Homo sapiens: one gene and its partners. The protein of the gene in region 3 interacts with the protein of the main gene of each other region in a pairwise test. Each region holds a gene or a part of one and is shown on either strand. Other genes may lie near its edges. The genes, in order: RFC2, AKAP5, PRKAR1A and AICDA.

Region 1 (6,429 bases), on a different chromosome or scaffold from region 3:
AGGATCACTTGAGCCCAAGAGGTTGAGGCTGCAGTGAGCCAAGATTGGCCCACTACACTCTAGCCTGGGCGACAGAGTGAGACCCAATCTCAAAAATCAAAACAAAACAAAAAGGGAAAAAAATAGTATCTTACCAAAAAAAAAAAAAAGGCAATTCTACAAATTAGTACGAAATTCTTTGGGGAATTCTAAAGCAAGCGCAAAGAGTATGGTCTAGAACACAGGAAGAGCATCACGGTGTTTTCCTGAGGGCTGGGCTGCATCTCTCCACTCTGCCGCCCTCTCTGAAAGGCTCGCCACCTGGCCATTCTGAGAAATCAGTCTAAATAGGAAAGACAGCAAACCCTGCCCTCGCCCTGGGGAAGTGGCGCCTTCAGGCTTCTAGAAGAACCGAGATGAGCTTGTGGGTCTACTATCTAATCGCCTTTTCTACTTGTAGGCTGCCAAGGCCCGTAGAGACAGGAAGCTGGTTTTTCTCGAGGCTTCACATGGTCACCTTATTGCCAACAAACACTGCAAGGCTTTATTAGCTAAAATGTCAACCCACACACAGATCAGAGACCGCCCTCAGCTTCTCTGCGCCTTTCCGCCCCGTCACCGCATCAATGGGGTGGAGGCCAAACTCAAACACTTGCGGGGCACAGACGTCCCAGAAGCAAACATGCAAGTCACGGGAGTTTATTTATTTAATTTTTTTCCCCAGATGGAGACTCTGTCGCCCAGGCTGGAGTGCAATGGTGTGATCTTGGCTCACTGCAACCTCCACCTCCTGGGTTCAAGCGATTCTCCTGCCACAGCCTCCCGAGTAGCTGGGATTACAGGTGCCCGCCACCACACCCAGCTAATTTTTATATTTTTAGTAAAGACAGGGTTTCCCCATGTTGGCCAGGCTGGTCTTGAACTTCTGACCTCAGGTGATCCACCTGCCTCGGCCTCCCAAAGTGTTGGGATTACAGGCGTGAGCTACCGTGCCTGGCCAGCCACTGGAGTTTAAAGGACAGTCATGTTGGCTCCAGCCTAAGGCGGCATTTTCCCCCATCAGAAAGCCGCGGCTCCTGTACCTCAGAATAGGGCACCTGTAAGTCAGTCAGTGAAGTCTCTGCTCTAACTGGCCACCGGGGCCATTGTCTTCTGACACAGCCTTGCCAGGAGGCCTGCCATCTGCAAAAGAGAGTTCACTCCTTCCGCTATTTTCATGTGAGTGTATCCAATTTCCTGAAAAACAAACCAAATTCAAATCTGGTTAATAAGTGGGGGAGTTCTTTTTTAAAATCTGAACTGAAAAAAATAAAAATAAAAACAGAAACAAACTGAACTAATGGTTTTTTCAAAATCAGCATGAGGAATTCCAACCCCAGCCGGAAAATGAATGCTAAGATGCAATGGATTATGTTTACCTAAAGTTCTATTTATTTCTTAAAAGGATGCTGATAGTTCTTTCAAAGAAACTGTTAAGAAAATGGGTGGGGCGAGGGGGGGCGGGGTGGTGGCACGGAAAGCCAGGCTAGAGGAAAATATTTATATATCTGATAAAGAACTTGCATCCAGACTGTATAAAGAATTCTCAAAAATTCAGTAATAAAGTCCAGGCGTGGTGGCTCATGCCTGTAATCCCAGTACTTTGGGAGGTCAAGGCAGGTGGATCACGAGCCCAGGAGTTCGAGATCAGCCTGACCAACATGGTAAAACCCCATCTCTACTAAAAATACAAAAATTAGCCAGGTATGGTGGCGCACGCCTGTAATCCCAGCTACTCGGGAGGCTGAGGCAGGAGAATCACTTAAACCTGGGAGGCGAAGGTTGCAGTGAGCTGAGATAGTGCCACTGCACTCCAGCCTGGGCAACAGAGCAAGACTCCATCTCAAAAATAAATAAGTAAATAAATTCAGTAATAAAAATCAAACAACCCAATTAAAAAATGGGTAGATTTAGACCTGGAGCAGTAGCTCACACCTGTAATCCCAGCATTCTGGGAGGCTGAGGCAGGAGGATCACTTGCCCAGAGTTGGGCCTGGGCAACATAGCAACACCCAAACTCTACGAAAAAAAGAAAATAAAAATGACCCAAGTGTAGTGGCACATGCCTGCAGTCCCAGCTACTCGGGAGCCTGAGGTGGGAGGATTGCTTGAGCATGGAAGGTTGAGGCTGCAGTGAACTATGATCGCACCACTGCACTCCAGCCTGGGTGACAGAGCAAGACCCTGTCTCTCAAAAACATAAAAAAGGTAGGCCAGGCGCAGTGGCTCACACCTGTAATTCTAGCACTTTGGGAGGCCGAGGCGGGAGGATCACTTGAGCCCGGGAGTTCAAGACCAGCCTTGGCAACACGGGGACACCCCGTCTCCACCAAAAATATAAAAATTGGCCGGTCTTAACATGATCTCTAAACAAAAAATACAGTACAATTAAAATAAAAAATGTAAAAATTTTAAAAAATGGGTATATATGAACAGATGTTTCATCAAAGAAGATTCTGGATGGCAAACGAGCACATGATTAAATGTTCAGCATAGTAATTAGGGAAATGCAAATTAAAGGCACAATGAGATCTCATCACATGCCTATTAGGTTATTTTGTTGTTGTTGTTATTGGTTTTTTTTTTTTTTTTTTTTTTAAGATGGAGTCTCACTCTTGTCGCCCAAGCTGTAGTGCAGGGGTGTGATCTCAGCTCACTGCAACCTCCACCTCCTGGGTTCAAGCGATCCTCCTCCCTCAGCCGCCCGAGTAGCTGGGATTACAGGTGTAAGCCACTGCATCCGGTCATTACACACCTATTAGAATGGCTTAAAAACCAAACTGAGCACTCCATGTGGTGGCTAGGTTGAGGATCCTCCGGAATGCTGGTGGGAATGCACGTGCTGCAGCCACTTCGGAAAACCGTTTGGCAGTTCCTTATCGAGTAAAACATACACTTATCATTTTCCCAGGCAATTTCACCCCTGGGAACTTACTTGGGAAAAAGAAAAACTTAACATTTGCATTCACACTAATCCATATATGCAAATGTTTACACTGGCTTTATTCACAGTCACCACAATCTGTAAACCCAAATGTCCTCCAGCTGATGGACAGATAAGCAAACTGTGGTACACGCACAGGATGGATTACTTCTCAGTGATAACACGGACTGACTCATGGATAGAAGTACCAGCGTGGACACATCTGAAAGGCATTTCTGCTACAGTGAAAGAAAGAAGCCAAACTCACAAGGCTAAGTTCTACATGATCCCATTTATATGATATTCTGGAAAACTGTATCCCATGAAACAGAAACTACATCGGTAGTTTCCAAGTGGTAGTCGGGGAGGGGGCTGGCTTCAAAGGGACACATGAGTTGTTCTGGGATGACAGATTCTGCATCCTGATGGTGATAGTGTTTGCATGACTGAGTGCGTTTGTCCTGTACCTAACAGGCTGAATTTTACTCTATGTAAATTAAACCTCAATTAATCTAACCTTGAAAAATCAATCAATCAGTCAATACACAAGAGAGCCTTGAATGAAGAAAATCAGAACTGTGTGAAACAAACTTGGTCCTCAGGACAATCAGCCACGTTGATCTAGTTTGGACGTCTGTCCCCTTCCAATCTCATTTGGAATTTGGTCCCCAATGTGGGGATGTTTGGGTCATGAGGAAGATCCCACGTGAATGGCTTGGTGCCCACCCCAAGGTAGTGAGTGAGTTCTGGATCAATTAGGTCCCTGGAGAGCTGGCTGTTCAAATGAGCCTGGCACCTCCCTCCGTTCTCAACAGGTGGTCTCTGCATGCACAGGCTCCCACTTCCCCTTCCAACATGAGCAGAAGCAGCCTGAACCCCTCCCTAGAAGCAGATGCTGGCATCATGCTACATGTACAGCCTGCAGAACTGTGAGCCAAATCAACCTCTTTTCTTTCTACATTACCCAGTCTCTGGTATTCCTTTATAGTAACTCAAAGGAACTAAGACACAGCCTCCCTCCCACTGCAGTTGGGAAACACTGAGCACCTTCTAGATGCCAGGCCTGTGAGCAGAGAAAGCGAAGCCAGGGCCCACAGTCTTTTTTTTTTGTTTTGAGACAGTCTCGCTCTGCTGCCCAGGCTGGAGTGCAGTGGTGCGATCTTGGCTCACTGCAACCTCCACCTCCCAGGTTCAAGCGATCCTCCTCCCTCAGCCTCCCAAGTAGCTGGGATTATAGGCGCTTGCCACCACACCCAGCTAAGTTTTGTATTTTTAGTAGAGATGGGGCTTTGCCATGTTGGCCAGGCTGGTCTCAAACTCCTGACCTCAGGTGATCCGCCCACCTCGGCCTCCCAAAGTGCTGGGATTACAGGCATGAGCCACCACGCCCAGCCATGCCCAGCTAATTTTTGTATTTTTAGTAGACAGAGGCTTTCACTACGTTGGCCAGGCTGGTCTCGAACTCCTGACCTCAGGTGATCTGCCCACCTCGGCCTCCCAAAGTGCTGGGATTACAGGTGTGGCCCACAGCACCCGGCCACTATGGGCCACATTCTTGAGGACAGAGGCATTTCTACATTCTCACCGACCTTGATAAACTCCAGTTTCAGGTATTCTGCCATTTGGAAAGTTTTACACACTCGAAAGATGTTGCCAATGATATCTTCTGGTGAGTAGCCCAGATGCCACAAGTGAGCAAGAATCTAGACAAAGGAGACAGAAAAGGCTGCTTACCACTTTAAACTGTAAGAAGACATGTGATTTTGAGACTCACCACAGCTGGTGGGGCCCACCCTTCAGGTCACATGGGGGTACCTTAACTGATTTTCATGGCAGATAGAGAGATAACATTGCAAATGTATTGTTGTTTTGCTTAAATATTTTTTTTTCAGTAATATAAAGATAAGAGTCTTGCTATATTGCCCAGGCTGGTCCCAAGTTCCCGGCCTCAAGCAATCCTCCTGCCTCGACCTCCAAAAGTGCTGGGATTACAGGCATGAGCCACTGAGCCCAGCCTATCGCAAATGTGTTAAGCTGTGTTGCAAAATGGTCTACTACCACACCCATGTAATCTCTTGATCCGGAGCTCTTAAAATGCTTTATTAATCTGATGACTAGGTATAGCAAAGTGGAAAAAGCAGACCATTCATCTGCTAGCTTCATCCAGCTGCAGTCCCAATGCAACCTCTGCAGGACGAGCCTGGAGCACACCCTGACTGGGTAATCCCAGCCTCCTGCTTCCCACCCACCCTGCCCCACCCAGGCTGCAGCGTCTGGAGGCAGGCCTTTTTGCCTTTGTTTTGGCATCTTGGGGTGAATTCAGGAGGCAGAGAAGCTCTGTGCCCACAAATCTGAAGGCTTTCTTCAGGTCTACTCAGGGACCCTGGGCCTGGGTCTCTGCTCAGTCTCCCCGCCTTGCACTCCGGTTTCACATTGGGTGGAACTATGCCCTAAACCCAGTCAACTTCCAACCTAGTTTGTTAGGGGGTAGGCAGAGGGAAACCATGACTGGATCAATGACCTTGAACCACACCAACCACACCACACCCATGTGGCTTGAGGTCGCCTGAACCCCAGCCACATCTGCTGGAATCTGCTCACAGCACTCAGTCCCATTGTGAGGCTAGAATCTTCCTGCTCCCTCCTCTCCTGGCTAGCTGGGGGCTGCTGGATCCCAGAATGCCTGTGCCTATGAGAATGGATGGGGACACTTCCCCTTAACTGGAGAGAAGATGGCTTCCCTGGAGAAGGAGCTAGGCTGGTCTTTCCTCCTGACTTTGGCTGACAAATTTCTCCTGCAGAGGATATAATTACAGGAGAAAAACACCATTTTGAATTCTAGTTCTACTGCTTTTAAACCATGACTTAGGGCTGGGCATAGTGACATGTGCCTGTAGTCCCAGCTACTTGGGAGGCTGAGGTGGGAGGATCGCCTGAGCCTGAGAGGTAGAGGCTACAGTGAGCTGTGACCGCGCCAGTGCATTCCGGCCTGGGCAACAGAGTAAGACCCTGTTTCTACATAAATAAATAAATAAATAAATAAACAAACACAGTGATTTAGGACAAGGAATTCAGCCTCTGAATCAGTTTTCTCATCAGTAAAGTGCACCCAACTCCTAGCATAATTTTTTTTTTCCAGTTCCTAGACAGATTAACACATAGCATGATATTAATAATTTTTTTTTTTTCCTGAGACAGGGTCTCACCATCACCCAGGCTGGGGTACAGTGGCGCAATCACAGCTCACTGCAGCCTTGACCTCCAAGGCTCAACAAATCCTCCTGCCTCAGTCTCCCAAGTAAGATTTCAAGAATGAATGGAGTGATGTGTATAATGTCCCTGGTACCAGAAGGGCTCCCGCTCTCCTCTGCCCAAGAAGTGAGCGGTTCCTCTGCCAGGACGGGGGGAAGGAGGCCAACCTTGTAGGCTTCGTCAATGTTGGCATTCACACAGTGCTGGATCATCTCCTTTACCAGCAGTGGGTGGGG
Region 2 (6,536 bases), on a different chromosome or scaffold from region 3:
AGTCCTTCCTAGAGCCTGATTGTTATCATCGGGCTGTGGTTACGAAAAGATAGAGTGTTAACATTACCAAAATGAAATCAGTGTCTTAGTAAACACAGAACTTTTTAAACACCCACCTTTAGTATGTACCGTCTGAATAATTCTAGCATTTTCACATTGATTAGTCTTTTGAAAAATCATAAAGATGAACAATTCATAGGTTAATGCAGAAAATAATGAGTATATCAAGAGATGAAAACAGTGTGCTTTTGTCAAATTCACAAATGTCATCAAATTCAGAACTGCCCTTTTGGCTGAATTAGTTCAGCATTGTAGGTGTTTATATTTGTCTTGCTGAAGGACTGTTTTAGGAGTGTTGTTGTAAAATCTCTGTCCAATTCCCAATTAGCAGAGTAGAACTTTTGGTAGTGCGAACTCAGTAGTTCCATCAATGTGATCTTTACAGTTATAGGAAATGAACATAGTTTGCCCACAGTTCTTTTAAAAGATCTGAATAAACATGAGTCAATATAACATTTATTCTGTATTAATAATCAGTACATAAATTAATTCAACTTGAAACCTTTTTTCTACAGAGTACTATTTAATATTATCATCTGATCCATAGTAATTTAGTACTAATTTTAATGAGAAAAAATGAAACTTTTACTTTCATAATAGCTCATCCACTTAACATTTTTACAAAGAACTACTATAAATATGTAACACTATGCAGGCTTTTTTCTACACCTAGTCACAAATCAAAATAAGCATACTGTTTATTTAAAAACGGAACACTTTCAAACTGCTGCTGTATTCAGATCACCACCTTCCCCACACCAAATTAATTGCTCTCTCTGTGTACTCCCCTCTGTGCCACTCATGTTGCAGCATTATCCATGGCTCTTTGCCTTAACCCAACCCGGTTTCTGTTGTCACTGCTCCCTAGGTTGAGTTCTTGGATGGCAGGGAGCCTGTCTCCCTTATCAAATAGTGTTAGGTATGAGTTATGCCTAATACGTGTGTTGAATCAAATTGAATTTAATTAGGACACCTGAATTTTATGTAGCTTCCTTCTAATTTTTGTAACTAAGGAGCATTACAAATTTTCTTTTCAAAATGTACCATAAAATATACCATGGATTGAAATTTTGAATTATGTATAAGAGAGTTCATGTTACCCAATAAAACATCATAGGAATTTGAACCTAAAGAACTCTAAATCTTAAATGAGGATTTTTTTTTAAATGCACAAATGGCAGGCAGAAAAATCAAATCCTGCTATATTATCAGATGAAATTAGAAAGTAGACTACATATTTCAATAAAGTTGACATTAAAAGGATCTTTTCAAACAGTGGGATTCTAAAGCCTAACAATTATTTTTTAAATTCTGTTGTAAACCTCGAAAAACATTCTTAACTATAAAAAATAAGGTAACTTGAAGTTAGAAATTTATGGATGAAGTTAGAAATGTATGGATGAAGTTAATGCTGGATTGCATACAGAAGCCAAATTTGGTGCCTCCATGATCCATATCTTTAATGCCTTTAGCAAGCCTGTTCACATATACTGGTGAAATAACAATCTCTCAGAAGTAAATAAAAGAGATTCTAAGACTCCGCTGAGTAGTAGACCAAGTAAGATCATCACAAACTTCATGCTGTCAAATACATTACCTTGAAGGAAAATTATGCAGACAGCTTTTCTGAACAACTCCATTTATGCCACATGCTTATTATTCTTTGAGGTGGAGGAGGTGGCAGGGAACATAATTTCTGTTTGAAAGTTCTTTTGTTTTCTGCTACCTTTACTTAAATGTTACCGGGTACTATTTTTATATCCTATAAAGTGCTTTGAAAAAATGTTAAGTGAATAGTGCTACATAAAATAGAGGAGAATTTTCACATTCTCTGGGTTGTAAGAAGCAAAGTGAATAATACTTGAGTCTTAAAAGAGGAATGATAATATGCTGAAAAAGTTAACAAGTAGCTAATAATCCCCCTCCCCAACCCCCAGCTTTGCAAAATTCTGGGTTCAAAGAGAAACTGAATTTTGGCTAATAAATAAATAAACATTCATTAAAAGCAGAATTTATACCACAGCAAATGTAAAGAAAATTCATGTGGTGTTCCTAATAATTATTTTAATGTTGTTAAATGGACATGAATTGAAACAGAACTTATTTATATTCACTTAACGTTTGCATATAAGGTCAAATTGCTTAAATACTATTACAAGAAAAATATTTTATGACTCTGAAGCCATCTGATTTCTGCATATTTCTATAACAATAAAACAATTTGAATCACCTTAGAATTCACTGTAATAGGATTTGGCCATGTAGCACATATAATCAGATTGAGACCAGTTAATTTCGGAATTCCTTTTTCTAACTGAAATCCTACTTAATTCAACAGATATTCTCAATAGAAAAACAGAAACCTCTTAAGAATGAATGCAAGTAAAATATACATCTTATCATAAAAACAATCAGTACATTCTAACCAAAAATATATATCAAACCACAGTGAAAAAAGTAAAAACCTAGTATTAGATAAAATTTTACTTTCTTAACCAAAAAATTCATTGCACATATTTACCATTTATCTGTTTTTTTAAAAATCCCCCAAAATATTTCCAATAACTGCTAAGTACTATACTTTTTGCTTGTTCATGAGATTACTAAACATTTACAATGCAAGTGTATTGGCTTGGAGGCATCCTTGCAGTAAATGAGGGCAGGATTCTTCAATACACTGTAAAATGCACCAACCTTAGTCAGGTTTTTAAAATGGTTCACTTTTAAATATGATAGCTGGTAGCTGTCCAAGTCCATTAGCACCACATATAGTGAGTTAAAGAGTGTTTTCAGAGAAGATGACTCGTCTTTTTTGTTTTTAATGTTTAAAAGTTGTACAATTAAAAGAAATTGACTTCTTGGGTCATGTGTTTTGAATGACACTTTTCATCTTGCTCAGGATTTCCACCCTCCTCCCCGGATTATAAGCATGAAGGTAGGAAAATCTGGGGGAAATATTTTTGCACTTCAGCAAAGAATCTTGCTAATAATATCCATGATTTGGTTCAATTTCCAAGTCAGATTAGTTTCTTTTGTTAGAGGTCTCAATATGTATTTACAGAAAGAAATGAAGATGATTCTGTAGGACAAAGTAGCAAATACTTTCTATATGCAATCCATACACAATGCAAGAATTCACCCAGATCATTTAAAATCATCTAATGTGCATTATTTCCTCCAAGTGGAGCTCTTGAACAAATACCTTACATCTCATACTTCATCTTTATTACTTCATCTGTTTCAAGTAGTAACACAATCACTCAATTTACACAATGGGGGAATACACACTTTGAATCCTAACCTGTGAGGTAGGGAAGTGCACTCTGGTATTATGGCCATTTCACACAAGGAAAGATTGAAATAGGATTACTTTTTCAAAAAATATGGCAATCATTGATGAGATCAGATGCTTCCCTTTCAATATGTAAATAAAAATGCAAATAAGCCCTTCTCATTTTTGTAAAGTATATCTGGATTGAAAATAGTGATGAAGGCCGGGTGCGGTGGCTCATGCCTGTAATCCCAGCACTTTAGGAGGCCGAGGCGGGAGGATCATGAGGTCAGGAGATCAAGACCATCCTGGCTAACACGGTGAAACCCCATCTCTACTAAAAATACAAAAAATTAGCCGAGCGTTGTAGTGGGCGCCTGTAGTCCCAGCTACTTGGGAGGCTGAGGCAGAAGAATGGTGTGAACCCAGGAGGTGGAGCTTGCAGTGAGCCAAGATCGCGCCACTGCACTCCAGCCTGGGCGACAGAGTGAGACTCCATCTCAAAAAAAAAAAAAAAAGAAAAGAAAATAGTGATGAAAAAGTTAACTTTCAATATTCATGTAAAATGCTTTTTACTGGTCTCAACACACAGACATGAAGGAATACTGACATTTAAATTATAATGTGCTTTAGCAATAACTTTTCACTTTTCTATTCACCCACATTCATGGCTCATTTTTGGCCGAGAATAAATATTTGCACTAGATTATTAGGATTTTCCAGGACCATTACTACCAGGCTGGCTTTGAATCTACTCTCCCCTCTTTGGAGAGAAGTTGATGAATATGGCTCTTAAAGAAGTAATTCTGCAAGATGAATCCTATATTATCTGTGATAATTTACTTGGGAATTTTCCCTTCTCCTGGATGAAGAATAATATTCCCCTTGTTTTGTTTTTGCTGTTTCATTTTTTAACTTTTCACAGATAAATCCATGCAGAAATGGATATATACAGATCTGTTGAGGCAGAAAGAAAAGCGGGGGAAAAACCCACTCTCCCTGTTTCTACACTTTTGCACTTAGTAACAATTTGCCTGATTGAAGGATTTGTGAATGGTTCTCTTTTTTTTTTTTTTTTTTTTTGAGAAGGAGTCTCGCTCTGTTGCCCAGACTGGAGTGCAGTGGTGCAATCTTGGCTCCCTGCAACCTCCACCTCTCGGGTTCAAGCAATTCTCCTGCCTCAGCCTCCCAAGTAGCTGGGATTACAGGCGTGCACCACCACGCCCAGCTAATTTTTGTATTTTCAGTAGAGATGGGGTTTCACCACATTGGCCAGGCTGGTCTCGAACTCCTGACCTTAGCTGATCCACCCGCCTTGGCCTCCCAAAGTGCTGGGATTATAGGCGTGAGCCACTGCCCCTGGCCAAATAGCGCTTATAAGAGACTTAAGACTAGGAAACCACTCACGTTTAATATCAATATGCATATTCTGCACACTATCTGCTGAAATTGGGAAAATGCAATGTATTTTTTGAGTTAAGCCTGCTGCTTAGGAATGTAACAATTACAAATCACATTCACAAAAGTAGCTCACCTTATTCACCATTTTAAACATATATGTGCACTGTAAAAAATAAGTTTTTAAAAACTTAATGTGATGTTAGCCTATACACAGAGCTGAATTATCAAAAGGAAACCAGACTTTGTTATATCAGAGGTCATTAAAAAGCTTATGGCATACCATAAGTGCTCAATAAATACACCTTCCTCCCCCAAAGCACTCCAATCTCCATATGCCATTTTAGCAACTCCCTGTATGTTATGTCATTTTACACTGCAATCTGTGCTGACTTCCTCCAATCCAGAAGTGACTGCATTTCAGTGGTAGAGTTTTATAAACTTGACTTAATCTTTAGCACTTCTGCGCTGGAATTGTACCTTTTAAGTTCTAGAGATGATAAATCTCTCATTTGTTACTGAGTAAGAAATGCCACAAATGTATAAAAGAATTCTTCATTAAGCTTGTTTTTTCTGCCGTGACTCTGGAGAGTAAGTCACTGTAGAAGATTGTTTATTTTATTATCATCAGAGGCCATTTCATTAACCAGCTGTTCTATTGACAACTGAATAGCATTCTTGACTAGAGAAGAGGCTGTTTCAATTAAGAGTGTTTCATATTGTTCTGAAGTTCTATCCTCAAAACCATTATCATTAGCAAAAACCCCTACTTGCTCATTTTCAGCTGAAATTAAGAATTGCTTAGGGACATTTTTAGATTTTGTAACATCAAATTCACTGATTTCAGTGTCTGTAATAATAATAGCAATTGGCTCCATTCTTTTGCTTTCTTCTGATTTGGATTTCTCTTCAGTGATCCCATTTTCTTTAAAATCTGATTCTTGGCTCAATTCAGTATCTTTTGGCTTAGTTTCTTCAGCTACAATCTCTGTACTTTCATAGTCTTTTCCATTTGGTGCACTTTCTAGGGTACTGTTACTGGCTTCTTCCACAATTTGTTGATCTGGAATTGCAGGTAAAGGAGGAACATCAGAAAGTACTGGCTGCTGATGGTCTGTTTCTGAAGTTTCAAGTGGGCTTGCTTGCTGGGGTTGAACATCTTGTTTTTCCTTGATCGTTTCAATTTCTTCAAGGATTAGAGTTCCCGTTTGAATAGCAGAATGCCCATTATCTAATCCAAGTTCTACTGAAATCACTTTCTCTCCAGAAGTTGTGCTATTGCTCACATTTGATTCACAGACCTCATCACCATCTTTCCGTGAGATGCCTTCACTTAGATCCTGGGTTGACTTAGCCTTTGTTGCCTGATCATTCAATGGGGTCTGTGTTTGTATATCCAAAATTTCAGCTTCTTCCTGGACTTTGATGCTGCAGTCTGAGTCTTCTATAATTTTGGAATGATTACTCCTTTTTGGCCCTCTTGGGAATTTTATGCAGGGAATCTTAAGTCTAGATTTTGCCTTTTTCTTAGAAAGATCAGCATCCTCAGCATTTATTGCAGGTTGCATTTCACCCTCCAATGGCTTTTGCTGCTTTGAAGACTCTGACCTTTTCCTGCGTGTTACAAGACGTTTGAGTGAGGCCCAGGCCCCCCGTGTGGGCTCTGGCTGATCAGAAGCTCCTGCTTCTTGTGGACACTTCCTTGCCACATCAGCAGCTTCAGAGCCAGCTTTGGGCTTCAGTGCTTTGGCTGCTTTCTTTCTTCTCTTGAAGCAAAGCATGGATGCCTTTTCCTTCTGCCTTTCAG
Region 3 (6,878 bases):
AGAGCTCACATTCTCGAAGGCTGCGTGCCTCCTCACTGGCGGCGGTACTGCCAGACTCCATGGTTCTCTGCGAGAAAAAAACACACACATGCTTGTATAAACTATAAAGCAAAATGTCAATCTGGCATTTAACTTGCTAAATTCATTAGACAACTGATTCACAGGGATTTTTTTCTAAGTAGATTTTGTTTTTAAACAGGGAAGTGGGGACTAGGGAATAAAATATGTACAGAATTAGCATTATTCCAAGTAAATGTTTCATTTAGTTCAGGATCTGTGCTCTGTAGGCAACAGTGAGAGTCGATAACCTCAGCTCCTGGGAGGAAGTATGAGCCACTAACCTCTGCAGAGACGGGTGCTGAAGTCAGGCCCTTAAGGGAATTTCATTCAGTTCTCCCTCAAAAGAAATCATGATGACGTGGGAAGTAGGTAAACGGTAAACAGGATACAGAATTACCAGGGCACAAAAGTCAACTGTAAGCGAAAGCAAGTCAGCACAATGAAGAATATCTGACATTCCCTATACGTAACTTCTATCCCATGGGAGTATCCTAACGTCACAGAGCAAACCACTGGAGTGAGGATCTGATTAGCCAACTACTAGCATAATCAAAATTTTTAAAAACACACAAGAAAATTAGATGAGTTTTAAAAGCAACCTTTATTCCAGACTCGTTTGCCAGATTCCACCCCTAAATGATAATACACTAGTGGTAAAAGAAGGAAAATCCTTAGTTGGGGGAGGGGAGAATTCTTACCACATAAACTGTAAAACATTTGGACAGAAAATTGTCAAAATATTTTCTTCATCTTGACAGGAGAATGTTAAAACACTTAAGTTTCAAACTTGCATGAAGATTCAATAGATAAATTGCATTTAATGGATTACATTTAATGGATAAATTGCATTTAATGGATTTTAGAGGATTCGAATTATGGTACCTTTATGTAAAGTAAAGCAAACAGAGATAATGATGAGCAGCTAACCTTACCCTAGAATTAAAAGTTTACTAATTTAACAACAGGGTCATATACTGTTTTCCTTCCAACTCCTAATTACTAAGCACTTAAGAGTAGAAGACAAGAGTGTGGTCCCCTCCACTCAGCAACTGAATTCAATACTAATCAGACTTTTCCAATTATAATGCATTGTAAACTATTGAGATGAAACTGTAAATTTAAAAGAACTTATAGAAAGAATTAACAGAGTAAAGAGCTATTCTAAAGTGCTACACTGTTACTCATTTTGTTTTGACAACTTTCACCATAAAGGTCAACAACAAGTAGACTAATTAACAGACCATTAGAAAGTTCGTGGCTCCAAGACAAGCACATAAATTAGAAGCCATGGAAAAATAATCATGCTGCTACTTTAAACAGGCAAAACAAAAACAAAAACGCGCATTTACTTTAGGATAGATTTATACAAGCCACTTCTCCAGGTCAGGCAATCATATGAACTGAAGATCCACTTCAGTAGAATTGTCTGCATTTCAAATAATACTTAAAGGCCACCAAGAACAATCATAAATCAGATCTTTCATGCTTCAAAGCATTGTCATATTTTAAGAACATTCAAATGATCAATCATTCTAAGATCAGGTCTTTGGCTGGTAGAGATGAGAGAACTGGGCCTAAGGAGTGAAACTGTGTTTTTGTTTGAAACAACTAATGTATTACGAAAACCAAAAAGATAGCCACCGGTAATAGGACAGTATACGAACAGAAATGTACCAAAATTAATGCAGTCACCATGTAAATCCCTGAATAACCAGACTTCACAGTCTTAATATTTTTAATCGAGTTACCCGGATTCTCTATGTGTACTTATTTGTAAAGCCCAACAACCTAGCCTTCCCTCCCCACACACAATTATTTAACTGCTTTAAAACTTTCGCTGCATTGTCTCTATGTAAAACAAAACACTCAGATTCATTCTTTTGAAAATTCAGTTGTGACAAAATTGTTTCGAAAGGATTACATTCTGGGAAATAAATAAAAACACTTTGAGAAACTGTTCCTGATTCAGACCGCACCCCCTTAGACCAGCCAAGTTACGGCTCCCCTAGGGTCATCTTGAGTAAGTGTTTGCTTTCCTCGCTCTGCTAAAAAGACGGATCTCTTGGGAATCTCTCAAGGAGTAGGACGGTCGTCACCACAGGCTCTGAGCTGAAGAGGTTAATAGGTACCGTGTATTTTCTAGAAGAAGGGCAGGAAAATGCCCTTCACTTCACGTAGGCCACGGTCATGACCACAAAATGAAGGGAAGCCGAGACTTCAAGCTACGCCAGTCGGAAGGCCACAGTGGTGGCGAGGAGGCCTCAGGGGGGCAAAATTGGGAAAGGGAGAGAGGTGAAAGGGGACAAGAGGAAATTCAGGAGCCCGACTAAGACCGTCGTGTTGGGGGAAAGATCACTCCGCTATGAAGAGGAAAGGCTACTGCTAGCAATGACGAGTCGTCAAAAGTGGAGAGGAAAACTACCGGCTTACAAGAAGAGCCAGGACCGGCGGACGAGACGATGGCGGACCCCAGTAAAATAGAGCCGTTGTCCTTCAGGAAATGGGGGAGGGTGAGCGAAGAGGCCGCGGCGCGCGGGGGCGAAGGCGGCCGGGGAGGGCCGCGGAGGGCCCAGGGCCCCAGGAGCCGTGGGGTGGGGGCAGCGAGCGCGAGCGGGGCGGCTGGGGAGCCCCGCACCAAAGCCAACGCCCAGACGGCCTTGAGGATGCAGACTCGGAGCCGGGGGCGTGAGGCCTGCGGGGAGGCGCCCGCCGGGCCGGGGAGGGGCAGGGGGTGCGGCCGTCCCCCTGCAGGTCGCTCCCCGTGACGCCATCTTGGATCGGTCCAGCTCCCGCAAACCGGCTGCGAAGCGACGAAGCTCACCTCGCCTGAGCCCCCGGCCGACCCCACTCACCTGGGGACGGGCGGCGGCGGGCGCGAGGCTGCGGGTGCGAGGCGGCGGCGTACCGAGCTCCCTCAGCGCTTTGCTCCCAGCCCCGCTCCACTCTGCGATAGCGGCTAGGCGACAGCTCCACCGGAAACGGCCTGGCCGCAGCCAATCAGCGTTCGGCTACTGACGTCAATGCGCCTCGCTCTGGCCAGAACCGTCGCCTTAGCAACCTTAAGGGCGCAACAGCCCCAGTTCCTCCCCCCTGGTCGCTCTTGGAAGGACCCTCACTCTGCGGTCGTTCGTCTTCCGCCATTCTTTCCATCTTACTCGTCCCTTATCCACAGCAGTTTCCTCACGCCCGCCACTTCTCCTTTCCGCAGTCTCCCTAGCCCGGTTCTCTCCTCCTTCCTGCTCACCTGCCCCTCCTTACCTGTCCCTCTCTGGGTGTCTTGGGTCGCCTTTGTTCCTCCGCCTGCTCTTCGCTCTCTCTCCGCGCAGCTATCGTGCGCTTCCCTCTCGTCCCTCCGCTCCTCTGTCCACCCCACTCTCCCTCCGGCCTCCCTTGACGCCTCTGCCTTTTCTCCCTCCTTTCCACCCCCTCCCTGGCCGACCCACGTGGGGCGTCTCAGATGACAGGTGGGCGACTCCTCCCCGCAGCCCCTGCAAGGGAGGGCCCCGGGCCGGGGCGGGGAGAGTCCTGTCGCTGCCAGCCCCCGGAGGAGGTGGCGGCCCCCGCGGATCTGCAGCAGCTGCGCTGCGGGGCCGAGCGCGGGCGGATGGCCGGGATGCGCTCTCCGGGCCGCGCATCCTGTGCCCGGCCAGCGCCGCCCGGGCCCCGGGCTCAGGTCAGTCATCCGGTCCAGGAAACCTGAGCCCTGCCGAGTCTCCGCTGGGGCCGCTCTCCCCCGCCGGGGGTGCTGTCGTCTGTGCAGGCAACACCGTCCCTGTGGAAACCAGGCACGGGAAAGGACTTTGTCAGGGTCCAAGAGGAGGCCTGAGTCCTTCTAGAACCTGAAGTGCCCCCCCATCACTCCTGACCTCACAGAGGGAGAAGTGCAGAGCGTGCAGATTGTCAAAAATGCCCTGTGACCCAACAAGAAATCGCAGCTGTCCAGACAAGCTGCACTAATGGGGAAAATTCGGAGGAAAAGCGACTTTACTCTTTCAGCCATTTTTTTTTTCCATCAGAGTATCTGTCTAAGGAGGAAGAAAAGGGAGACGGTACAATTTTAGACACATCAAGTCTGTAACTCAATAAAGAAGGCCCATCAAGGAAACATGTCCAAGTGTCTGGCTAGGGGCTGCTTTAGTAGCATTGTATATATTTCTAGGGCCGTGTGCTTAAAATTCATAATGGATTCAACACAATACAAAAAAGCAAAATACACACATATGCAAGTGTCCAGGAGCTGTTGTAGTAACATTGTATATACTTCAAGGGCTGTATGTTTAAAGTAAATCATGAACTCAACACAATACAAAAAAGTAGCTCAATAGTGTTTATATTGATTCCAGATTGAAATGATAATATTTTTGATATATTAGGTAAAATATTAAAGTTAATTTCACTTTTGTTTTTTAATTCTTAGTGTAGCTATTAAAAAGTTTAAAGTTACACAGATGGCTCCCATTATATTCCTATTGGGCAGCGCTGCCCTCGGAGGCCGACTGCTCCCCCAAATCCACCAGGCTCTAAGGGTACTGTCCATCAGATGATTTATTTAGTTATGTTATTCACTGCCTTCTGATAGGGATACATAGGCGATATCAAAAGGGCAATCAGGCTTACAGGGGGGAATGGAAAAGGGAAGTTTCTCCTTTCACTGACTCCCCAAATGTTGACCATTGGCCCTTCTCCAGGGTTGATCAGAAATGGGGATAAAAGAGCCTCAGTCAGATAGGATTTCACTCTTGACAGTACAAAGAAGGGTTGATAAACTGAACCCTACGCTGGCAAGCAGCAGAGGGAATTTGATAGCATTGAGCAGGCCCGGTCATGTTATGGGAAGAAAATATTGCAGTCAGGTAAATCTGAGTTTGGTTTCAGGCTCTGCCATGTCCGGTAATTGACTTAATCTCCATGGGTGTCCGTTTCCTCGGTCATAAAAGGATGAACAGGACTTTGTTGAAGTTAACTACTAAGGGTATAACAGCAAACACACGTATAGCACTTACTGTGTTCCAAGCACTGATCTAAGGGCTTTACACATAATTAATTTAATCCTCATAGTAACTCTTAACATAGGTAATATTGTTATTGTTACAGAAAAAAACATGAGACATGGAGAAGTTAAGTGACTTGCCCATGGCCACACAGCTAACATGGCTTAAACCCAGGCAGTGATCTTAATCACTCTCCATTGCAGAATAGATAGATCTCTCTCTCTCTCTCTCTCTCTCTCTCTCTCTCTCTGTCTACATATATATATATGGTGTTCAGTACAGTGGGGGATATATTAAATGAATGTTAATTTACTTCCCATTTCTCCCTCTTCCTGCAGAGCTACCCAAACTACAAGGTTAAGTCAGAGTGACACTATGTCCCACCATTAGTGTTACCTTCCAAGTGCAGTTAAGACACTAAGAATAAGGAAACAAGCAAGCTGCTGACATTGAGCTGAGCACTTTGAGTGACAGCTGCTTCCTTGCTGAGTCCTGGCTGTGTGTCCCCATTCAGCTGCATGCAGGCGCCAGTCCAGCCACGGGCCATTTCCTGTGTCAGTCACACTCAACCTTGTTCTAGGTGCCAAATCCTCATATGCTGGGGCTTTAGGAGACATAAAGGGAAATGGGCAGTAGACAGTTGAGCCCGGGGAAAGTTCAGTGAGACAGCTGTTCTGAAAAACTAAATAGCCTCAGTGCTTTCCAAATGGTGCAAATGTTCTTTCAGTGCCACTGTGCCACTGTGAGAATACCAACTTGTTGGTATTCGTAAATTATGTTTCAGAAATGACATTTGTTCCACTGTAGTTTCTGTATGGTTTCCCTTCTCCAGAGGCCTTCTGCCCTTGATTCAAAGGTCTGTTAGCCTTTCCTTTGGACTGTGTCCTTGAGAAACTCAGTTTAAAAATATGTTTCTAGAGTAGTGGGATTATAAGTAAATTTTCCTGTTTAACTGGTGGCTAACATCTGTAATCCCATCACTCTAGGAGGCCCAGGCTGGAGGCTTCCTTGGGCCCAGGAGTTCAAGACCAGCCTGGGCAACACAGTGAGACCGCCGTCTCTACAAAAAAATTTTAAAAATTAGCCAGATGTGGTGACCCACGCATGTACTGGGAGGATTGCTTTAGCCCAGGAGGTCAAGGCTGCAGTGAGCCATGATCGCACCACTGCACTGCAGCCCTGGCCACACAGCAAGACCTTCCCACTCAAAAAACGAAAAAGAAATTGCATAATTGCTGTTACAATGCTTGTGAAACAATACCAAAAACCATAAAAGCAAAATAAACATGAGTGATAAGCAGAAATAGAATTAAGAAAGCTAAAACGTGAAAGGAAGGAATACTTTGGTGGTCCATTTCTTGGTGGTTCTTGCACCTAAAGTTTCCATTGGCTAAACACAGATCCACGTATTTCCAATTTCAAAGTCCATCACCACCTACTTATGGTGTACAATGGTACTGAGTACTTATACTTCCTAGGAGACCCAAAGTTGTGGTTTCAGACATAACTAATTCCAGCAAACACCCGAATGCCAAAATGTCTTCCTACTTTTCTCACTGGCAAATGCTCATTTAAACTAAGGAGGGGTGTTTATCTTGAGCATTAATTGAAAATATTAACCAAGAAACCAGAAGGGTGGCAAACTTGGATCTAACACTAAAGCGTTCCAAGTAAAAATATCTTAATCTAAAACATATCTTCATCAAAAATAGCATATTTACTTATTCATTCAACTTTTATTTTAGATTCAGGGGTACAGGTGCAGGTTTGTTACCTGGGTATATTGTGTGATGCTAAGGATTTGGGTACAAGTGATCCCATCACCCA
Region 4 (7,222 bases), on a different chromosome or scaffold from region 3:
ATGAACATTCACGTACCAGTCTTTGTGTGGATATACATTGAGAATTGATATTTTAATAATGTAGTGCAGGTGACAGACCCTGACTTTAAAAGTTAAATACCAAAATATCAGCCTAACTAAGTAGCTCATCTAGGACAACAGCTCTTTGTAGTTGTTTCCATTTATTTTTAATTTTTCTTCTTATTTTTTTGAGGCAAGGTCTGGTCCTGTCACCCAGGCTGGAGTGCAGTGGCGCAAGCACTGCTCAGTGCAGCCTTGACCTCCTGGGCTCCAACGATTCTCCTGCCTCAGCCCCCTAGTAGCTGGGACCACAGGCACATGCCACCATGCCCGGCTAATTTTTGTTATAGAAACAGCGTTTTGCCATGTTGCTCAGGCTGGTCTTGAACTCCAGGGCTCAAGCGATCCACCCACCTCAGCCTCCCAGAGTGCTGGGATTACAGGCGTGAGCCACCACACCTGGCTGTCTGTTTCACTTTAAATGTCTCCCCTCACGTACATGAAGCTTACTGGAAAGCACTTTAAACTTTAGGCAGCAAACTAGATTTATTGCCAGTATACACATTACATAAGGTAAAAATTAGCCATATTATTTTAAAATTTAAAATGCATATTTTAATCTAAATGGATCCTAGGCCAGATGCAGTGGCTCATGACTGTATCCCAACACTTTGGGAGGCCAAGGCAGGAGGATTGCTTGAGCCCAGGAGTTCAAGACTGCAGAAAGCTATGATTGCACCACTGCACTCCAGCCTGGGTAACAGGGTGAGATTGTCTTTTAAAAAATCAAAAACATAAAAAACATAAAATGAATACTAAAAAAGATCCAATAATAATTAGCTTTATTTTAAAAGGATAATAATTTTTATGGTAATTACCATAGTACCAACCACCATTACTATTACTATATTAGCATATAATAACCCTTTGTATATATAAGCTCAACACATAATAGGTGCTTAATAAGTACAGAAGAAAAGAAATTCTCTCTTTGAGGCCCAGTGTTAAACAGATTAAGCATCATCTCTTACCAATAAATCCCTCTTATATTAACTTACCCTCCTGGGCTGTGTAGATGAGAAAGGCAGAGGAATCTACATCTTTTTACATGCACCTTGGTTGGCGGGGTGTGTGTTTGTGTGTGTGTGTGTGTGTGTGTGTGTGTGTGTGTGTGTGTGTGTGGAGAGAGAGAGAGCCTTATCATAAGGAAGAAAAAGTGTCCTGGAAGTATAGATAAGAAGGATGTGGCATAGATAAAGGACTTTGGGTGGATTTTTGGGTCCTACTCTACATGAAAATACAATAAGCCTACACTGTTTCTGTCACATGTTACCAGTCAGAGTGAAATGAATTGCGTGATCCTGACCTGCTAGTTAACTTTGTTGATCCATTACTTCCCTTCTCTGGTTAGGGGCCTGTTTCCAGCTCCCTGTTCTCGTCATTTCTGTCCTGAGTAGGAAGGACTTTACCGAGGGAGTGTTTCAGGCTTGCAGGCTGACAGCTGCTCTGGACAGCTGTGCTCCCTGAGGCAGAACCCTAGCTGCATCCCCAGCCGTGCAAACCAGAAACAAGCGGGTTAAAAATAATCCTGACCAAGTCATTTTGCCATCACTAATGAGCTCTACAGATACTGTCCTCCTTAATGATAATATATTTCCCTTCTGTCCTGTTGAATTTCATCTTTTCTCCTTTTCTGTCTTTCTCTGAATTTCAACTGCTGATTTTACCTTTGCTTTCCATTTTACTTTGAACAAGTATTTCCAATGGACCCTTCACAAGGACCTATAGCTCAGACTTGTTTTCAAAATCTCAGTGTAAACTGAGGAGACATTTGACATTGTCTGACCTCAAGAAAATTTTCTGAAGAACATTAAATCCTCCATTAAAAATCTTTATTCTGTATATTGGATGTGATGGCTCATGTCTATAATTCCAGCACTTTAGGAGGCCCAGGCAGGAGGATCGCTTGGGCCAGGACTTAGAGACCAGCCTCGGCTGGGCTAAGACCCTGTCTCTACAAAAAAATATATTTTTAAAAAATCTTTATTCTGTAATGTAAGTTCTTTATAAAGGAGTTAAATTGAGGTAAAGTATAAGGATTAGGTGTTATTCTCATACATCCATAGTAATCATAAATGTAGGAATAGAATAAGTTCTATGACAATAACCTATCAAAAACTGCACATAAAGACATTATGAGGACCTTAACCAAATTCACACCTAAGAGGTAAGTTAAGCTACGTCTGAACAAATGGAAAGATTAGTTAATAGTAAAAGTGCCATTAACTGCCTAACAATTGGGCCTTTAACATTAAATAACTTGCTTGAATGAATTTGTCTCCTTATAATGGACACAATCATAGTGACTTTCAAGCAATTAATTTAGAATGCTTGGCATTTCTAAAATTACAAATTTTCTTACTATAGCTAAATTATTTCAGTAACGCCTCCCTAGGAAAGTGTGTCTTCAAGTTGTTTTACTGTTGAATATTTACAAAATTATTACGAAAATTAGCACTACCGTTTTTAGTACAGTACTGCTATTACCTTTTCATGATTTGAGTCTCTAAAGATTTGCTATGTTAATATTATTACCATAAATTAGTTTCAACCATGGTACAAATCTCAGGACGAATCAGTACATTGTACGCACTACTTCTTTTGCCACATGAAAAAGAGGGAAATCAAGAGAAGTCTGAAACAGAAAGAATTGGGCTGACAGCGTATAAGATCTGAATAGAAGAAAAGGAGACAGATCAAAAAATATATATGCATATTGATCAAGCTGATCTTATCAGTCAGACAGTTACATGAGAGAAAGGGATAGCTACCAGTCTCATTACTCAGATTTGCTCTGAGAGGAAGGCCAGTGCAATCACCCACGAGAAGACTGCCTCTTTACCTGTCCATAGTGGTGTCCAGAGTGTCTTCTTGCCTCCCTGCAAGTCTCAGGCCAGAAAAATCTCACTTCAATTAATGATGGTTCTCTGTCTTAGTCTGACAGTGCATTGGCCCTTCACATTCAAATTTGAGCTTGCCCTTTTGGGCTCCTCCCCTGACAGCATCACCCCCACCAGGTACCCCAACGGCCTTGCTCCTGATTTGGATCCAGTGAAGATGGGTGGGTGGGGCTGTCATAGGCAGAGTCACACAGGTTAAACCATTGAGGGCAGCTCTGCTTTAATGTTTAGGTTCCTTTGGGGCTGCTGCTCTAAAAGCCCAGTCCATGCTCCATAGCTAGCAAAGATCAGGAGGCAGTAACAGTAGACACTTCAATTATAATCATGATAACACAAAATAAAAGCACAATGAGAATAGTAATATTTATGTAAATACCTTAAAGAGCATTTAAATAGCTTCTTGGGTTATTGTGTTGAAGAGCCTCAGATAGCCTCTAATTCCCCCATATTCCCACAGTCTCTCTGAACCTCAGTACAGACAGGCACTAGCAGCTCCTGCTTTGCAGTTAAGCAAATGAACTCAGTTATATAGAATTTAGAACACAAAAATTTTGCCTCCCAAACCATGGATTTTTTTCTTTCTGATTGCATTACAAGAATTGCTTGAAGACTAGATATTTACACCAAAGAGTGATTTTTGCATGAGCCATCTTTTTTAGAAAAAAAAAAAATCCTTAATTTGGAGTCAGAAGCAGCAGCAGTCCCCCAAAATACAAAAATGCTTGTTTCACCAGACAGATTCAGTGTCTAACTGGCTGCACTGAATTTGGAAAACAGGCTAAGATCTTCAAATAAAAGACTTTAATTTTGTGCTCTCATAGAACTTGGTCTATTAAAGATTTTATTTCTCTCTCCTACTGTAGCCCATATGCATTCTATTTATTCACTGAGTAGATACTTCATGCCTACTGTTAATGGAAACTATGCCAGGTGCTAGGGATGCAATGCTAAGCAATGCAGCTAGGGTCTCTGCTCTCTTCCTGCCTCAAGCCTTTGATACCATCTATACCTTGATGATTTTCAAATCAATAGCCCTAGCTTGGACCATGTATTCGTCTGTTCTCACACTGCTAATAAAGACATGCCTGAGACTGGGTAATTTATAAAGGAAAGAGGTTTAGTTGACTCACAGTTCCACATGGCTGGGGAGGCCTCACAATCATGGCAGAAGAGCAAGGGACATCTTACATGGTGGTAGGCAAGAGAGAGCTCACGCAGGGGGAAATCCCTTTATAAAACCATCAGATCTTGTGAGACTTATTCACTATCATGAGAACAGCATGGGAAAGACCCACCCCCATTGTTCAACTACCTCCCACTGGGTCCCTCCCATGACATGTGGGAATTGTGGGAACTACAATTCAAGATGAGATTTGGGTGGGGACACAGGCAAATCTATCAGACCACTTCTTGAAACTCAAGACAAGTGTATCCAGCTTCCCTCTCAGAATCTCCATTTGGATGTCTGAGCACCTCCAGCCTGTCTAAAACAGAACCCCTGTTCTCTGCCTTACCTACTCTTCTTGCCGTCTTTCCCATCTCAATAAACAGCAGTATTCTTCCAATTGCTTGGCAAAACCTGGGCAGAGTGTCTCTCAGCTCCTCTCTTTCTTTTAAATTCCATGCACACTCCATTAGCAAATCCTGTTATCTCTGCTTCCAGAATATAGCCACAAACTGACCACTTCTCACTACCTCCAGGTCCAAGCAACCTGGATTATTGCATTTTGCTTCCCAACTGGCCTTCCTGCCTCCCCCTTCTTCGATTACAGTCTGTTCTCCACATGGCAACTAGAGTATTCCTTCTGGAATATTTAAGGTCATGTCACTCCCCTGTCATAACCCTCCATGGCTTCCCATTCTCTCAGTATAGGCCAGCAGCCTGAGATGGCCCACAAGCCCCTCTACCGTCTGCTCTGCTTCACCCCTCTGGCTGCATCTCCTTCCACTCTCTCCCTTGCTCACGCAAAGAGCGCACACTCCTTCCTCTGCCCTTGAGGTCCCTCTGCTGAAATGTTATTTTTTGTGTATGGTTGTGGCTTACACCATCATATATTTTATGTCCTTATTCAAATACTGTCCGGTATTTGAGATTTGTCCTAGTCACCATATCTAAAATGTCAACAAAATCTCACCATTCTGACACTCCCTTGCCTCCATCCCCTAAATTATTTTTCTCTTTAGCACTTATCACTTAAAATACACTCCTAAGTAAACTAAAGACAAGTAAAATAATCTGTTTAAATTATTTTTTAATTAGCCATGAGATTCAAAATAATAATTATAATTATTTCTAATAATTATGTAATAATAATAATTATTATTTTGAGGAGGGTCTCTCTCTGTCACCCAGGCTGCACTACAGTGACATGAACATGGCTCACTGCAGGCCTTGACCTCCTGGGCTCAAGTGACACTCCTGCCTCAGCCTCCCGAGGAGCTGAGACTACAGGAATGTGCCACCACACCCAGCTCATTTTTGTATTTTTCTTTAGAGACGAGGCCTTTCCATGTTGACCAGGCTGGTGTCGAACTCCTGGGGTCAAGTGATCTGCCCATATCAGCCTTCCAAAGTGCTGGGATTACAGGCGTGAGCCACTGCACCTGGCCTTGTCTAAATTATTATTGCTGAAAAAATTCCTCAGGGCACCAGCAAGATAGTAGACGGTAGTTGCCTTTGGCACTCTCAGTTTTATAGGACAGTTGGTCAAGGAGCAGAATGGAGACTCCTAATTCATCTGCAGCGTCAACTGGAAGGTGCAGGCATTTGAAATCTAATCCCTTTAAGTTGTATCCTCAGATGCGAGTTGGGCTTTTATCATATTTTCACCCATTTGTCAAGAGAATAACACACAGGTACACACAATTGGGTTGTTTTATTGTTTTAAATAAAAACGGCACATATTTAAGGTGCATAACATGGTGTTTTGTTATCTGTAATGAAATGATTACTACAGTCAAGCTAATTAACTTATCCATCTCCTCACATAGTAACCTTGTATGGATATGTGTGTGTGGTGACCGCATCTGAAATCTACTGTCTTAGAAAATTTCCAGTATACAATTTTTTTTTTTTTTCGAGACAAGAGTCTCACTCTGTTGCCTAGGCTGGTGTGCAGTGGCATGATCTTGGCTCACTGCAGCGTTGACCTCCCGGGCTCAAACAATCCTCCCACCTCAGCCTCCCGAGTAGCTGGGACCACAGCTGCACACTACCACACTGGGCTAATTTTTTTGTTTGTTTTTTTGTACAGGCAGGATCTCACTATGTTGCTCAGTTAGGTCTTGAACTCCTGGGCTCAAACAATGCTCCCATCTCAGCCAAAGTGCTGTGATTACAGGTGTGAGCCACTGTGCCTGGCCCAATACAATCTTTTTTAACTGTAGTCATCATGCTGTACAATAGAGCTCTAGACTTATTAATCCTGTATAACTGCAACTTTGTACCATTTGAGCAACATCTTCCCATTTTCCCTACCTCCCCATGCCTGCTAACCACCATTTTACTTTCTTTCTTTCTTATTTTATTTTTTTTTTTTTTTTGAGACGGAGTCTCACTCTGTTGCCCAGGCTGGAGTGCAATGGTGTGATCTCGGCTCACTGCAACCTCCGCCTCCTGGGTTCAAAGGATTCTCCTGCCTCAGCCTCCCAATTAGCTGGAATTCCAAGCATGCACCACCACGCCCAGCTGATTTTTGTATTTTTAGTAGAGACGGGGGTTTCACCATGTTGGCCAGGCTGGTCTCGAACTCCTGGCCTCAAGTGATCCACCCACCTCGGCCTCCCAAAGTGCTGAGATTACAGGCGTGAGCCACTGTGGCTGGCTCACCATTTTACTTTCTGCTTCTATGTGTTCAACTTTTTAAGATTCCACATATAAGTGAGATTATGCAGTATTTTTCTTTCTGTGTCTGGCTTATTTCACCAAGCATAATGTCCTCCAGATTTATCAATGTTGTTGCAAATGGCAAGATCTCCTTTCTTAAGGCAGAATGATATTCTTATTCTGATATATATATACGTGCCACATTTTCTTGATCCATTCATCTGTCGACAGACACGTAGGTTGTCTCCATATCTTGGCTATTGTGAATAGCGCAGCAGTGGACATGGAGTTATCTCTTCAAGGCACTGATTTTGTTTTCTTTGGGTATTTACCCAGAAGCAGGATTGCTCAATATGGTAGTTCTGTATTAAAATTTTTGAGGATCATATAGTAGTTCTAGTTTTAGTTTTTTTTTTTTGGAGAAACCTCCATACTG

The links.
Region 1: the proteins of PRKAR1A (region 3) and RFC2 interact in binary tests that used the Homo sapiens proteins (3 or more experiments, as listed by UniProt).
Region 2: the proteins of PRKAR1A (region 3) and AKAP5 interact in binary tests that used the Homo sapiens proteins (3 or more experiments, as listed by UniProt).
Region 4: the proteins of PRKAR1A (region 3) and AICDA interact in binary tests that used the Homo sapiens proteins (3 or more experiments, as listed by UniProt).

The regions. Positions count from the first base shown.
Region 1 is NC_000007.14:74,231,002-74,237,430, forward strand, and holds the end of RFC2 (replication factor C subunit 2), read right to left. Parts: coding exon 6,361-6,429; exon of another isoform or gene 6,355-6,360; intron 4,645-6,354; coding exon 4,531-4,644; intron 1,216-4,530; coding exon 1,105-1,215; 3' UTR 501-1,104; downstream 1-500.
Region 2 is NC_000014.9:64,468,468-64,475,003, reverse strand, and holds the end of AKAP5 (A-kinase anchor protein 5), read right to left. Parts: coding exon 5,326-6,536; 3' UTR 501-5,325; downstream 1-500. UniProt on the Homo sapiens protein: Multivalent scaffold protein that anchors the cAMP-dependent protein kinase/PKA to cytoskeletal and/or organelle-associated proteins, targeting the signal carried by cAMP to specific intracellular effectors.
Region 3 is NC_000017.11:68,508,583-68,515,460, reverse strand, and holds the start of PRKAR1A (cAMP-dependent protein kinase type I-alpha regulatory subunit), read right to left. Parts: upstream 3,032-6,878; 5' UTR 2,913-3,031; exon of another isoform or gene 2,483-2,912; intron 475-2,482; exon of another isoform or gene 342-474; intron 68-341; 5' UTR 62-67; coding exon 1-61. UniProt on the Homo sapiens protein: Regulatory subunit of the cAMP-dependent protein kinases involved in cAMP signaling in cells.
Region 4 is NC_000012.12:8,609,858-8,617,079, forward strand, and holds the start of AICDA (single-stranded DNA cytosine deaminase), read right to left. Parts: upstream 3,003-7,222; 5' UTR 2,911-3,002; coding exon 2,903-2,910; intron 1-2,902. UniProt on the Homo sapiens protein: Single-stranded DNA-specific cytidine deaminase. Involved in somatic hypermutation (SHM), gene conversion, and class-switch recombination (CSR) in B-lymphocytes by deaminating C to U during transcription of Ig-variable (V) and Ig-switch (S) region DNA.